Homo sapiens: one gene and its partner. The protein of the gene in region 1 interacts with the protein of each later gene in a pairwise test. Each region holds a gene or a part of one and is shown in the gene's direction. Other genes may lie near its edges.

Region 1 (4,459 bases):
TCAGAGGAGACCCCCACCAGACTGGGCCTCAGCCCCTCCTGTTCCTCACAGGGGCTACCAGCCAACACCAGCCATGGCCAAGTACGTCAAGATCCTGTATGACTTCACAGCCCGAAATGCCAACGAGCTATCGGTGCTCAAGGATGAGGTCCTAGAGGTGAGGGGCTGGAGGACGGGGTCCAAGAGGGGGAAACAGGGCAGGGCTTCAAGGGAGGGGCTACCAGGGGAGGTGGGGAGCGGTCTAGGGCCAGGCTGGGTGATGCCAGGACGGGGCACAGCTGCTGGCCCCTTTCTCCAGGGTCCCCGCCCTTGGACTCTGATCAGGATCCCCAGCCTGTTGGAGGGGCCTTCCCATCTTGGGGCTCCCCAAAGGCATGCAGAGACCCCTGTGCCAGGCTGGGGGGAGCATCTGCACCACGTGGACTCAGCGGGGGCCTGTCATTCACACCCACCCAGGAGCCCCCACATCTGCACTGGCCGCATCTGCCAGCCGGAATCCAGGCCACCCACTGGGGGACAGAAAGTGGAGCAGGCTAGGGGGGAGTGGGCCACATCCACAGCCTGGCTCGGCGGCTCACGCCTGTAACCGCAGCACTGGGAGGCCAAGGCGGGAGGATCCCTTTAGCCCACGAGTTCGAGACAAGCCTGGGCAACACCTCAAAACCCCATCTCTACAAAAAACATAAAAATTATCTGGATGTGGTGGTGTGTGCCTGTGGTCCCAGCTACTCTGGAGGCTGAGGTGGGGGGATCGCCTGAACCCAGGAGGTCGAGGCTGCAGTGGGCAGTGATTGCACCACTGCATTCCAGCCTGGGCGGCAGAGTGAGACCCTGTCTCCGAGAAAAAAAGGGTCCCCCAGACTCCTTGAGGCAGGGTGGGGGAGGAGCAGCCCAGCGAGGGATGGAGGGGTGGAAACAGGGGTGCGGAGAGAATGGAGCGAAGCGGGGCTCCGGGAGACCCTAGGGCGCTCCCGACCTCTGTAAAGCGGCGCCAGCGGGTGGTCCCAGCCCCGCAGAGCCTGGGTGTGGGGAGGGGCTGACGGCGCGCCCCGCAGGTGCTGGAGGACGGCCGGCAGTGGTGGAAGCTGCGCAGCCGCAGCGGCCAGGCGGGGTACGTGCCCTGCAACATCCTAGGCGAGGCGCGACCGGAGGACGCCGGCGCCCCGTTCGAGCAGGTGAGCCCGCGGGGGTCCCTGGGGTCGCAGCCCCCAGCTTCCTGGAGCAGCCCCGCCTGCGCCTAGCCCCGCCCCAAGGCCAGCCCCGCGGCTGGAGAGACTGGGGCAGGTGCAGGGCTCCCTGGGCAGAAGGAAAGGGCTGGTCCGCAGGCCGGGGCTGTAGGGGGATTGGCGGGGTGGGGAGGTCCCGGGCAGGTGCTGGGAGGCGGGGGCGGGGCGTGGGGAGCCTAATCGCCCCCCGCCCCCGCAGGCCGGTCAGAAGTACTGGGGCCCCGCCAGCCCGACCCACAAGCTACCCCCAAGCTTCCCGGGGAACAAAGACGGTGAGAGCTGCTGCTTCGAGGCGGGGGTCCCGGGCCCAGGGCCACCTGGGGGAGGAAGTGTGGGGGGGGTCCCTGGGCCGGGGGCGGGGGCAGGGGCAAGGCAGCGGCGGGCCTGAGTCGCGCGCCCCCTCAGAGCTCATGCAGCACATGGACGAGGTCAACGACGAGCTCATCCGGAAAATCAGCAACATCAGGGCGCAGCCACAGAGGCACTTCCGCGTGGAGCGCAGCCAGCCCGTGAGCCAGCCGCTCACCTACGAGTCGGGTCCGGACGAGGTCCGCGCCTGGCTGGAAGCCAAGGCCTTCAGCCCGCGGTGAGCGGGGGCGGGGGATGAGCTGGGGCCCGGGCGAGGGGTGGGAGGTGCGGCCGAAGGTGCGCAGCTGTCGGGGCGGGCGCCAGGCAGCCTCGCTCACAGCGCGGCCCTGACGCCCAACTGCCCGCCCCCAGGATCGTGGAGAACCTGGGCATCCTGACCGGGCCGCAGCTCTTCTCCCTCAACAAGGAGGAGCTGAAGAAAGTGTGCGGCGAGGAGGGCGTCCGCGTGTACAGCCAGCTCACCATGCAGAAGGCCTTCCTGGAGGTGAGCCCGCCTGCGCTCCGGCGCCACGCCCCTCCTGCCCCTGCGCCCTCCTCTCCCCCGCCCGTTCCTGGGGTCGCAGAGCAAGGGGGAGGCCGGCACCCAGACACGTGGGACCCCCGGCTGAGGATGCCCCCATTTCTCCTCCCTAGAAGCAGCAAAGTGGGTCGGAGCTGGAAGAACTCATGAACAAGTTTCATTCCATGAATCAGAGGAGGGGGGAGGACAGCTAGGCCCAGCTGCCTTGGGCTGGGGCCTGCGGAGGGGAAGCCCACCCACAATGCATGGAGTATTATTTTTATATGTGTATGTATTTTGTATCAAGGACACGGAGGGGGTGTGGTGCTGGCTAGAGGTCCCTGCCCCTGTCTGGAGGCACAACGCCCATCCTTAGGCCAAACAGTACCCAAGGCCTCAGCCCACACCAAGACTAATCTCAGCCAAACCTGCTGCTTGGTGGTGCCAGCCCCTTGTCCACCTTCTCTTGAGGCCACAGAACTCCCTGGGGCTGGGGCCTCTTTCTCTGGCCTCCCCTGTGCACCTGGGGGGTCCTGGCCCCTGTGATGCTCCCCCATCCCCACCCACTTCTACATCCATCCACACCCCAGGGTGAGCTGGAGCTCCAGGCTGGCCAGGCTGAACCTCGCACACACGCAGAGTTCTGCTCCCTGAGGGGGGCCCGGGAGGGGCTCCAGCAGGAGGCCGTGGGTGCCATTCGGGGGAAAGTGGGGGAACGACACACACTTCACCTGCAAGGGCCGACAACGCAGGGGACACCGTGCCGGCTTCAGACACTCCCAGCGCCCACTCTTACAGGCCCAGGACTGGAGCTTTCTCTGGCCAAGTTTCAGGCCAATGATCCCCGCATGGTGTTGGGGGTGCTGGTGTGTCTTGGTGCCTGGACTTGAGTCTCACCCTACAGATGAGAGGTGGCTGAGGCACCAGGGCTAAGCAATTAAACCAGTTAAGTCTCCCAGGAGCCGTGTGTCTCAGTTCTCTGGGAGTCGGAGTGGGTCCTGGAGCCCCCGGAAACTGCACCTTTTCTAAGCAGTGCCGGGCAGAGGGCTGGCCGTCCGCCAGGCTGCTCTGCCCCTGAGCCCAGAGGGGACCCTGCCCACTTCTCTTCCTGTGGCCCTCCCAGGCCCAGCGACCAGAAGGCCCAAAGCGTGTCATCCAAGCCCGGCTTTCGCTGGGCACAACCCTAGTGGGAGCGGTGGGGACAGAGCCAGCTCGGCCAGACGGTCGGCAGGCCCCAGGAGGGCCATGAGTCAGAGGGCAAGGCTGAAACTGGATTTGGAGATCTTAGCCCAGGCTGACGGAGGCTCCCAAGAAGGGGGAGCAGGCCACACTCAGCACCCTGCGTGGGAGGGGCACCTGACCGCCAGATGGGCGGTCCACCTGAGCCGCACCCTTGGAGGGGCCTTTGGTGCCCTCTGCCGGCCGCTCCATGTGCTGCCGTGAGTGGCCGCCAGGGGTGCCCTCGCCCTGGATTGGTGGCAGGGGGCAACCCACAACCATGTGTCCCCATAGCAGCCGTGAACCCAACCCTGGTGCGGAGCATCCGGGGACACAGTCCTGGGGTCTTGGCCTGGGCAGGGGCGACTGTGGGGCTGGGCTGGGGGGGGCGTGTCCCTTGCCTGGTCCACCACCCAGCCAGGCCTGGACACCAGGCCACAGAAGCCCTGACTCACAGCTCAGGCCACACTAGGCCAAGTCTTAACCACAGTGTCTGGTCGGGGCAGCAGGGATTGTCTGGTGCCCTCTGAGCCACGACCCGGGCTTGATGGCCACCACCACTCCTCCAGGCCCCCGGAAGAGGCCCCCCCACCCTGTCAGATGGACCCTGCAGTGAGAGAGACAGGTCCAAGAGGAAAAGGGGAGGGATGGGGGCACCGGCCCTCCTCCCTGCAACCTGCAGCTCCCGCTGCCTGCTGAGCCACCACCTCAGGACGGGGATAGGCACCGGGGCTATATCTGCTCCAAAAGGGGCCTCTGTGGGCCCCAGGATGCCAGTCCTTGGAAGTGAGGGAGGCTGCCCACTCCCCAACCACTCCCAGCAACAGGACCCTTCCTCCACCAGGATGGTCTGGGCTTCATATGCAGCCTCCAGGCTGGGCTGCTCAGCTTCTGAGGGCCCCAGATCTACACCTGCTTCTTCAGCCTTCTCCCTGTCCACCTCCCCCAGCCCCATTTAGAGCCCCCTACCTGCTGTGCCCCACTCTGCCACCTGCACAGCTGAGGAGCCCCAGGAAGCCAGACCCCCAGACTCCAGCCCCCAGATCCCAGCCCTAGGCCCCAAGCAGGCTCCCACCCCAGGAGCCCTGAGTCCGAGGCACCCTGGCCCCAGCTGCCTGCTCGGACCTCTGGGCTTCCAGAAATTACC
Region 2 (2,357 bases), on another chromosome or scaffold:
CAGCTCAGGGCTGGACTCTAGGAAACTTTCTGAGGCTGGAGGGTGGGCGTGGGGTTGAGCTCAGCTGTTGAAGCAGGTGTTTGCAGATGTGCCTCAAGCAGAGGTGGTGGGCGGGGCTTGGAGGAGGTGGGTGGGGCAGGCCAAGCTCCTTGCCTCTGGTGGGCGGAGGCGGTCCTGGCTCAGATTCCACACCCTTGTCCACGCAGGTTCCTACTATCTGACCACCACCTACGGGGCCCTGGAGCACATCAAGAGCTACGACAAGATCACGGTGACCCGGCAGCTGAGTGTGGAGGTGCAGGACTCCATCCACCGCTGGGAGCGCCGGCGTACTCTCAACAAGGCCCGGGCCTCCCGCTCCTCCGTACAGGTGAGGCCTGAGAGCGGGAGGGGCCCGGTGGGGCCATGTCCCAGACACCATCCCTGCTGCCTGCTGGCTAAGGAGCCGTGACATCACCTGGCTGCTCCAGCCGCCCAGCCCTGCCTTAGGGGAGCAGTGAGACTCCCCACACCAGAGGAAGGGCCCCCAGCCCCTGCTGCCAGTGTGTGTCCAGGACTTGGGTGCGTCTAGAAACATATCAGCAGGCATTGGTGTTCTCCCTGGGCAAGCAGGAAGGGTGCAGGAGGAATGAGACACACCCATCATTCCTTAGCCCCTCCTAGGACCCAGCACCCTGCAGGGGCTGGAGATGGGGACTTGTCATCCCAGTCCCTGCTTTAAGGAGCCCACAGGCTCATCTACAGCCTTGCTCCTTAGTCCCTGGACAAATGCAGCAGCTGCCAAGGGTCTGCGTAACCCCCACCAACCCAGTGGCCCACCCCTCCCCATACCTCTCTCTATACAGACTCAGTATTCAAACCAGTCCCGCCCCTCCCCAACTCCATCACCCCACCCACCCCCAGGCTGCATCAAATCCAGCTGCCCCCAGTTCCCCAAACATGCCCAGCCCAGTTCACTGGCTGCTCAACCGCTGCCCTCACTGGTCAATCTCCCCTTCTTCACTGGCTGTCACTGCCCATCCTTTAAGACGACTCAGTTTCTCCAACAGCCCCTCCTCTGAGAAGCCTTCCCTGATACACACACACACCGTTTCACACAGGCTGGGTGGGGTGCCCTCCTCTGGGCTTCCTGCGGCCTCCCCTTTTACAGTGCATATCACATCCTATCATCCTCTGCATATGAAGCTGTCACCTCTGGGAGGGCACAGCCCATGGTTCACATGCCTCAGGGGCGCCAAGCCCAGGGCCTGGGACAGAGCAGGACTGGGTGTGTAAAAAAGGGTGAGAGTTGGACTAGTGAGCCAGGCACATCCAGAGCTGTGAGCAGCTATGCAGACTCACTCCTCTGACACCCAGAGCAGACCAGTCCTGAGCCACACTCCTGGCTTTCAAGATGGTGCATCTATAATAAGCAGAGCCCAGGCCTGGGAGACAGGAGGCTTGAGTTCTGGCCCCAGCCCTGTACTAGCTTGCTGTGTGACCCTCAGCAATCCCTGCCCCACTCTGGGACTCAGTTTTCCTGCCCACACAGGCTGACTATGGCTAATCAATTTAATAACTGACTCTCTGGGGAGAAAACAAAAGCTCTGATTTTAGCTTCTGTCCATTTCCATGGTGTGAGTCCTCCATGGCCAACTTCAACTTGGCATCACTGAATGTGGAGTTGGAAAGAAGTGTATGCAGTCGGCTCTCCCTGGCGGGTGTGAGCCAGCTCCAGCACACCTCTGTTCCCATCCCCTCCCAACACCCCGGACTCCCACAGACTGTAGGGACATGGACACTCTTGGTCCAAGCCTGGCCCAGGCATCCCGTACTTCCTGCTTCTACCTTAGGGGTTCCTGATGCTGAGCCAGGCAGAGTATGGATGAAACGGACCACCCACTGTTTGGGAGACGGAAGCTTCGGAGGGGGGTCCCCTCAGCACCACATCTGGGATCTGGGGAGGGCACCACCCTCTGCCCCCTCCCAGTGCCTCCTCCGCACACCATGCCTTGGGGGGTGGGCACCCTTCCCTGGGGAGGGGAAGCCCAGAGCTGGACAGTCACTAGCAGGTGGATAGTGCCCTGGGAGGCCTAATGGAGGACAAGGAGCCCTGAGGCAGCCACTAAGACGGAGGGAGTGGGCCGGGCTTTTCCCCTCCTGGAAGAAATGGGCGGTCCCCGTGAAGCTCTTGACAGGAGCCCGGCCTCGCCTAAGCCCTAGCCACCAGTTGCCATCACGGTCTCCGCCGAGCCGGGATCCTCAGCCGCTTCCCGCGCAGGCCTGCTGTTCCCAATCCGGCCACAAGGGGGCAGCCCCGCGCGCAGCCTCTCTGCCTGCAGCCCTGAGCCCCGGGGAAGGCGAGGCCGCTCCGGGCC

The links.
Region 2: the proteins of EPS8L2 (region 1) and RIN3 interact in a two-hybrid assay, tested with the Homo sapiens proteins (one large-scale study listed by BioGRID and IntAct).

The regions. Positions count from the first base shown.
Region 1 is NC_000011.10:724,673-729,131, forward strand, and holds the end of EPS8L2 (epidermal growth factor receptor kinase substrate 8-like protein 2), read left to right. Parts: intron 1-51; coding exon 52-157; intron 158-1,055; coding exon 1,056-1,175; intron 1,176-1,425; coding exon 1,426-1,498; intron 1,499-1,631; coding exon 1,632-1,812; intron 1,813-1,946; coding exon 1,947-2,079; intron 2,080-2,228; coding exon 2,229-2,309; 3' UTR 2,310-3,055; downstream 3,056-4,459. UniProt on the Homo sapiens protein: Stimulates guanine exchange activity of SOS1. May play a role in membrane ruffling and remodeling of the actin cytoskeleton. In the cochlea, is required for stereocilia maintenance in adult hair cells.
Region 2 is NC_000014.9:92,684,781-92,687,137, forward strand, and holds part of RIN3 (ras and Rab interactor 3), read left to right. Parts: intron 1-206; coding exon 207-370; intron 371-2,357. UniProt on the Homo sapiens protein: Ras effector protein that functions as a guanine nucleotide exchange (GEF) for RAB5B and RAB31, by exchanging bound GDP for free GTP. Required for normal RAB31 function.